Homo sapiens: one gene and its partner. The protein of the gene in region 1 purifies or fractionates together with the protein of each later gene. This does not show direct contact. Each region holds a gene or a part of one and is shown on either strand. Other genes may lie near its edges.

The links.
Region 2: the proteins of PRDM10 (region 1) and GRHL1 purify together in Homo sapiens (co-immunoprecipitation; one large-scale study listed by IntAct). This does not show direct contact.

What each region holds. Positions count from the first base shown.
Region 1 is NC_000011.10:129,912,336-129,915,835, reverse strand, and holds part of PRDM10 (PR domain zinc finger protein 10), read left to right. Parts: coding exon 1-176; intron 177-817; coding exon 818-1,132; intron 1,133-3,500.
Region 2 is NC_000002.12:9,958,193-9,961,692, forward strand, and holds part of GRHL1 (grainyhead-like protein 1 homolog), read left to right. Parts: intron 1-593; coding exon 594-664; intron 665-681; exon of another isoform or gene 682-772; intron 773-2,853; coding exon 2,854-3,244; intron 3,245-3,500. UniProt on the Homo sapiens protein: Transcription factor involved in epithelial development. Binds directly to the consensus DNA sequence 5'-AACCGGTT-3'.

The DNA of each region.
Region 1 (3,500 bases):
AAGCCCACATTCTGAAGAACCACCCAGGAGCAGAGCTCCCACCGAGCATTCGGAAGCTCCGACCCGCTGGTCCTGGAGAGCCAGACCCCATGCTGAGCACACACACCCAGCTGACGGGCACCATCGCCACCCCTCCCGTCTGCTGTCCCCACTGCTCCAAGCAGTACAGCAGCAAGGTAGGGGGAGTTTCTGACTAAAGCTAAGGTCAAAACCGCCATGCGAGGAATCTCTTAAGGAAAGGTGGCTTCTCATCCACATGGCCTGGATGGCTCCTTCTGAGTTGACGGGGGACTGAAAGAGATGTTGTCCTAGTCACTGTAAACAGAGAGCACAGCAGAGAATGGAAAGAGGATACTGTGGACCTCCCCAGAATTAGTGCCGTACAGCAGCCCGAGCAGCTGGCTGTTTTCCTTTTCCCTTGGCCTGCGGAGGGCCTCACGTTTGAATGTTCTGTGCTTGCAGTTGGTGAGTTCAGGCTTTTGGAAGCACCACATAGAAAGTTACGTGGTGGCTTTACAAAGGAGGTCATTTTGGCTGGGGGGATTGTGATTGATTGCTGCAGGTACTATTTGGGGGGGGTATTGAGACCTTGCTGATGGTGTGAGGTCAGGTGAGGTTTTACTTCTTCCCCACCCTCTTCCCTGCTTTCATAGCATTATGTTACCCCAGGAAGTACAGGCATAGAGTCAGTGTTGCTCTGATTTTTCTTTTTTTAAGACATAAAAGACTTTAGGAATCTTTGGAGGATTTACATATGAGAAAAACGGAAAATCACAAATTCTAATAATTATTCTTGTTTTTTGCCTTGCTTTTTCAGACCAAGATGGTCCAGCACATTCGAAAGAAGCATCCAGAGTTCGCCCAGCTCTCCAACACCATACACACACCACTGACGACAGCTGTGATCAGTGCCACCCCAGCGGTTTTGACTACAGACAGCGCCACTGGAGAGACTGTGGTGACGACGGACCTGCTCACCCAAGCAATGACAGAACTGTCCCAGACCTTAACGACAGACTACCGAACGCCACAAGGGGATTACCAGAGAATTCAGTACATCCCTGTGTCGCAGTCGGCGTCTGGCCTCCAGCAGCCTCAGCACATACAGCTGCAAGTGGTTCAAGTGGCCTCGGTACTGCGTGCCTTGGTTTCCCTTTGCCTTATGAATGCCGTGTTGCCACTAGCACCTCATTCTCAGAGCTGGGGCTGGGATCTATGTAATGTCCTTCTGCGTGGAAGTTCTGAGCCTTGGGCATTTTACAACTGCCCCTTCCCCTTTCAGGCTGATGAGGCCTCTGGCCTTAGCAATGTAAGAGATTTCTGTCTATAGTAGTCAGGAAATTTTAGGTTCCAGCATATACAAGCCTCCTGTGCTGTGGCAGGACAGTAGCCACAGCACCTGTTTCTGACCCTCTTCTGATCCTTATCTTTAACCATCCTGGTTGGCTGCTTGGTAATGAGCCAGTTTGATAAATCACGACCTGCGTATCAAATGTCTTATATCAAAGAGAGGTCATAAAGCATAATATTGATGGCTGGGCGCAGTGGCTCATGCCTGTAATCCCAGCACTTTTGGGAGGCTGAGGCGGGCAGATCACTTGAGGTCAGGAGTTCGAGACCAGCCTGGCCAACATGGCAAAATCTCGTCTCTACTAAAAATACAAAAATTAGCTGGGCATGGTGGCGGATGCCTGTAATCCCAGCTACTCAGGAAGCTGGGGCAGGAGAATTGCTTGAACCTGGGAGGCGGAGGTTGCAGTGAGCTGAGATCACACCATTGCACTCCAGCCTGGGCGACAGAACAGGACTCAAAAAAAAAAATTGAGTCAATCTCTGCATATCAGTCAGTGCCTTTGTAGTATAGAGGTATAACTGTGTTCCTTCTACCAGATAATGAATAACTCATTCTTATTGACTAAGGAACTAAATGAAAGTGATTCTCCCAGAACTATTGTTTCATTTAATTACACTGAGGAGAAGTGTCCCCAAGGCACAAATGAACAAACTTGTTGCTTTGAAATCATTTGGTCTCTGAAAATTTAAAACTAACATGGGGACAGGAAATTGGAAGTTGCCACTGTCGTTGACTATTCTTTGTCTTGTTTTTCTTATGGAGGGTTTTTAACTTCAGGCTTTGGAGGAAGCTATATGAGTCCCTGAAGTTGCCTGTAAATTATGATGTATAGGTACATTGTTCTAGAAAAAGGGCCTGTACTTTAGCTACTTTTTCAAAGATGTTTATGATATATAAAAGGTTAAGAACCACTGTCATAGTGGGTTAATGGTGACAAACTAAAAACGAATTTCTTTGATCTCTTTTAATTGATAAAGGGTAGATCATTAAATGTAACTGAAATTTTTGATTCCTGACAACTTCTTTTTCAGCTTATTGTCAGGAACTATCTTCCCTCTCTCTCCTTCTCTTCCAGAATCTAATAGTGGCTTATGTGTGAGAAGCATATTTCTCTAAACGCTCTTTTTTTATCCTGTTGTATGGCGTGTTCTAGGTGTGGGCTATCTGCGAGTGCAGCATTGGAGCTGAAATCCCTTCCATTCTTCTATTTCTGTTGGCATATATTGGGATATTGTTTTTGGTTTTTTTTTTTTTTTTTTTTTGGAGACAGGGTCTCACTATTGTCACCCAGGCTGGAGTGCAGTGGCACAATCATGGCTCACTGCAACCTCCGCCTCCCAGGCTCAGATATTCCTCCCACCTCAGCCTCATCAGTAGCTCGGATTACAGGCATGCCACCATGCCTGGCTATTTTTTTTTTTTGAGATGGAGTCTCGCTCTGTTGCCCGGGCTAGAGTCCAGTGGCACGAATTCAGCTCACTGCAACCTCTGCCTCCCAGGTTCAAGTGATTCTTCTGCCTTAGCCTCCTGAGTAGCTGGGATTACAGGTGCTCGCCACCACACCCAGCTAATTTTTGTATTTTTAGTGGAGACAGGGTTTCACCACATTGGTCAGGCTTGTCTTGAACTCCTGACCTCAAGTGATCCCCCCGCCTCAGCCTCCCAAAGTGCTGGGATTACAGGGGTGAGCCACTGCACCCTGCTGCCTGACTAATTTTTTTTTTTTTTTCGAGATGGAGTCTCGCTCTGTCGCCCAGGCTGGAGTGCAGTGGTGCAATCCCAGCTCACTGCAAGCTCCGCCTCCCAGGTTCACGCCATTCTCCTGCCTCAGCCTCCCTAGTAGCTGGGACTACAGGTGCCTGCCGCCACACCCAGCTAATTTTTTTGTATTTTCAGTAGAGACGGGGTTTCACCATGTTAGCCAGGACGGTCTCGATCTCCTGACCTCGTGATCCACCCGCCTTGGCCTCCCAAAGTGCTGGGATTACAGGCGTGAGCCACGGCGCCCGGCCATTCACCTGACTAATTTTTGTATTTTTTGTAGAGACAGGGTTTTGCCATGTTGCCCAGGCTGGTCTCGAACTCCTGGGCTCAAGCGATACACCCGCTTTGGCCTCCCAAACTGCTGGGTTTATAGGCATGAGCC
Region 2 (3,500 bases), on another chromosome or scaffold:
AGTCAGGAAGGGTCTTGCTCTATCGCCCAGGCCAGAGTGCAGTGGCGCAATCTCTGCTCACTGTAACCTCTGCCTCCGGGCTGAAGCGATCTTCTCACCGCAGTCTCTCTTGTGTAGCTGAGACTACAGGCACATGCTACCACGCCTGGCTAATTTTAAAATTTTTTTTGTAGAAATGAGTTTCACTGTGTTGCCCAGGCTGGTCTTGAACTCCTGGGCTCAAACAATCCTCCCACCTTGGCCTCCCAAAGTGGCTGGGATTACAGACATGAGCCACCAGCTGTGGCCAGCGGAGGTATTTTTTTTTTAAGAGATGAGACCCAAACTCCATGACAAAATAAATTTATCATGCCCTGAGTTTATTTGGCAACTCAATAACAGTTGCTTTTTACATATCAACCAGATGGGTGACTAGATTTTAAGCTCGTTGAGGGCAGATATTATAATTTGTGTGTCCCCATAGCCTGGTGTTTGCTAGGCAACCAGTAGATAAATGAATGATTGAATTTACTGAAAAATAAAAGGCTGTATCTTTGGGTAAACTGCACTTCACTGGATAAGAGCTAAATTCTTTTCATGTGTGCTAATATCAGGTTCCAAGAGAGAGAAGGTCATCAACAGCAAAGCCAGAGGTGGAGCACCCTGAGCCAGATCACAGCAAAAGGTAACATTCAGTGCCTAACAGCATAAAGAGTGCAGGGGGAAATGCCACGTTTCTGTAACAGCAAAATGGGAGTTTGTTTAAATGAACAACCACTAGTGAAAGAGATAGGTAAGTTGGACTCTTACTATCTAAATTCAGATTTCATCACTGATTTGCCTCTGTTGCTCTGAAATTTCCTTTTTTCTTTGGGCGTAGTAGTTGCCTTTTCTAGGATGAAAGCACTAACATTCTCCTCCTCCAAAGGGATAGTTTTAGTAATAACTTCAGTATTTGCTTATTTGTTTTTGAGGTTTTCTTTAGAAGGATGTGTGGCAGTGGTCTATTAAAAAAATTAAGCACCAGTGACTCTTGAACAACTGCCTGAGTAAAATTGAATAAAGCAAGTTAAATTGTATTCAAATTCCTGTTGAAATTATTTGTGAAATATTTTAGATTAAAACTTTCAGAAAATTTAATTAACGTTTGGCTAGCCATGAAAAACTTTAAAAAGACACCTTTTAAATTGTCTTGTGTTTTATTATCAATCAAGGAATGAAACATATTTAAAGGAAGAATGATCATCACCCAGTATCCCATTATCGTGATGATTGCTTTATTCATTGTTTTGATGTGTATGCAAATTTTATGTAGCGTAGTTGTGTTCACAGATAGGATTTGGTAGTGTACTTTCTTCTACTTAGTTTGTTTCATAAACATTTTCTCTGTATTTTAATCTTCATAATTATCCTTTGGAAGAGGACTTGTGGCTTTTATCTTTTACTTTTCATTATGGGCATTTTCAAACATAATAAAAATAGAAAAACAGTATAAGCCCACATGTATCCATGACCAGCCTCAACAGTTATCAACACAATTCCTCTTGTTTGATTTGTTCTTCCCTCTTCTTCAACTTTGAGATTAATTCATGTTTTTATTTTATTTATTTTTGCTGGAACATTCTGAAGCAAACTGTAAATATCCTTACAATTGCTGCTATATCTAGTTTTCACTATTAAGAAGTCTTAAGGAACAACTTTCTAGACTTTTTCCGTTTTAGGATAAATTCCTGGGAGTGAATTTATGGTTCAGGGTTCAAACAGTTTTATTGATCTTGAAATGTACAGAATTCTCAATTTGCCTGTTTCTTGAAGCTTCAGCCTATATGATTTCTGGGGGCTTTGAAAATTCATTCATTTTACCCACTGGAAATCATCTTGTATTGCTCAAATTATTTATCAAACCAAAATTTAATTTTATAAAAAGCAGATGTGTCTACTGATGCAATGTAACAATAGGTTTTCTTGGGTGAAAGAGAAAGCCAGGCCCGGCACAGTGGCTCATGCCTGTAATCGCAGCGCTTTGGGAGGCTGAGGCAGGTGGATCACCTGAGGTCAGGAGTTCGAGACCAGCCTGGCCAACATGGTAAAACCCAGTCTCTACTAAAAATACAAAAATTAGCCAAGTGTGGTGGCGTGCGCCTGTAATCCCAGCTACTCGGGAGGCTGAGGTGGGAGAATCGCTTGAACCCGGGAGGCGGAGGTTGCAGTGAGCCTAGATCACGCCATTGCACACCAGCCTGGGCCATAAGGGCAAGACTCTGTCTCAAAAAAATAAAAAATTAAAAAAAAAAAAAGGAGAAAGCCAAATGGCATAGGTGGTAGGAAAAGTGGTGACCAAGTAATAATAGCTCATACTTCTTGAAGACTGTGTGTCAGGCATTATTATACACCTTTTAGTGTATCATCTCATCTCAACCTGATGAGAATGGATGCCATTATTGTCCCCATTTTGCAGATGAGGATTCAGTTACTAAGAGATGAAGTAACTTGCTCAGGTGACACAGAACTTGAACCCAGGCAATTTGACCCTGGCGTCTATGCTGTAACCCCAGTTGATCAGATCGCATAGCTTCAGGTTTCTAGTAAAACACAGTAATTGTTTTTAGGATTATGGAAAGTAAAGCTTGTTAGAGGAGAGCTCTGAGCCCTTAGTATTTCGAATGAAATTTTACTTAATAGGTTTGGATTTTATTTGACCGATAACCAGAAAGCCTTTTTCCCTTTATCTAGTAATGGGTAGTTTTGATGTTTTCTGTTTATTCTGTCAAGTGTTATTGCACAGGACCCAACAGCCCAATGCCATTAGGAAAATAAAAATTGTCAAAGAACTACATCAGCATCGCGTTTGAAAGCAGTTTTCTTTTCTTAAAGAAACAGCATACCAATTGTGACAGAGCAGCCCCTCATCTCTGCTGGAGAAAACAGAGTGCAAGTACTGAAAAATGTGCCATTTAACATTGTCCTTCCCCATGGCAACCAGCTGGGCATTGATAAGAGAGGCCATCTGACAGCTCCAGATACGACAGTCACTGTCTCCATAGCAACGATGCCTACCCACTCCATCAAGACAGAAACCCAGCCACATGGCTTCGCTGTGGGAATCCCCCCAGCAGTGTATCATCCTGAGCCCACTGAGCGGGTGGTGGTTTTCGATCGGAATCTCAATACTGACCAGTTCAGCTCTGGTGCTCAAGCCCCAAATGCTCAAAGGCGAACTCCAGACTCGACCTTCTCAGAGACCTTCAAGGAAGGCGTTCAGGAGGTAAGGAAACAAAAACATCTTCCTAAGACGCCTGCGTGTTTGTATAAGTATTGGGTTCCACCTTTTCCTTGTTATGTAAGCATGAAACTCAGCCTGAAATGAATGGATTAGGAATAAAAGATTTTTTTTTTAAGAGAAAAGGCCCATGGGTATAATTTGTAAACTAAACCTATACAACCAGAAGTTATTATCAAGGATGCAAGGCTAATCTTACCAGCAGCTGAGTTAACAATTATGATTTCAGCTAAGGGATTTG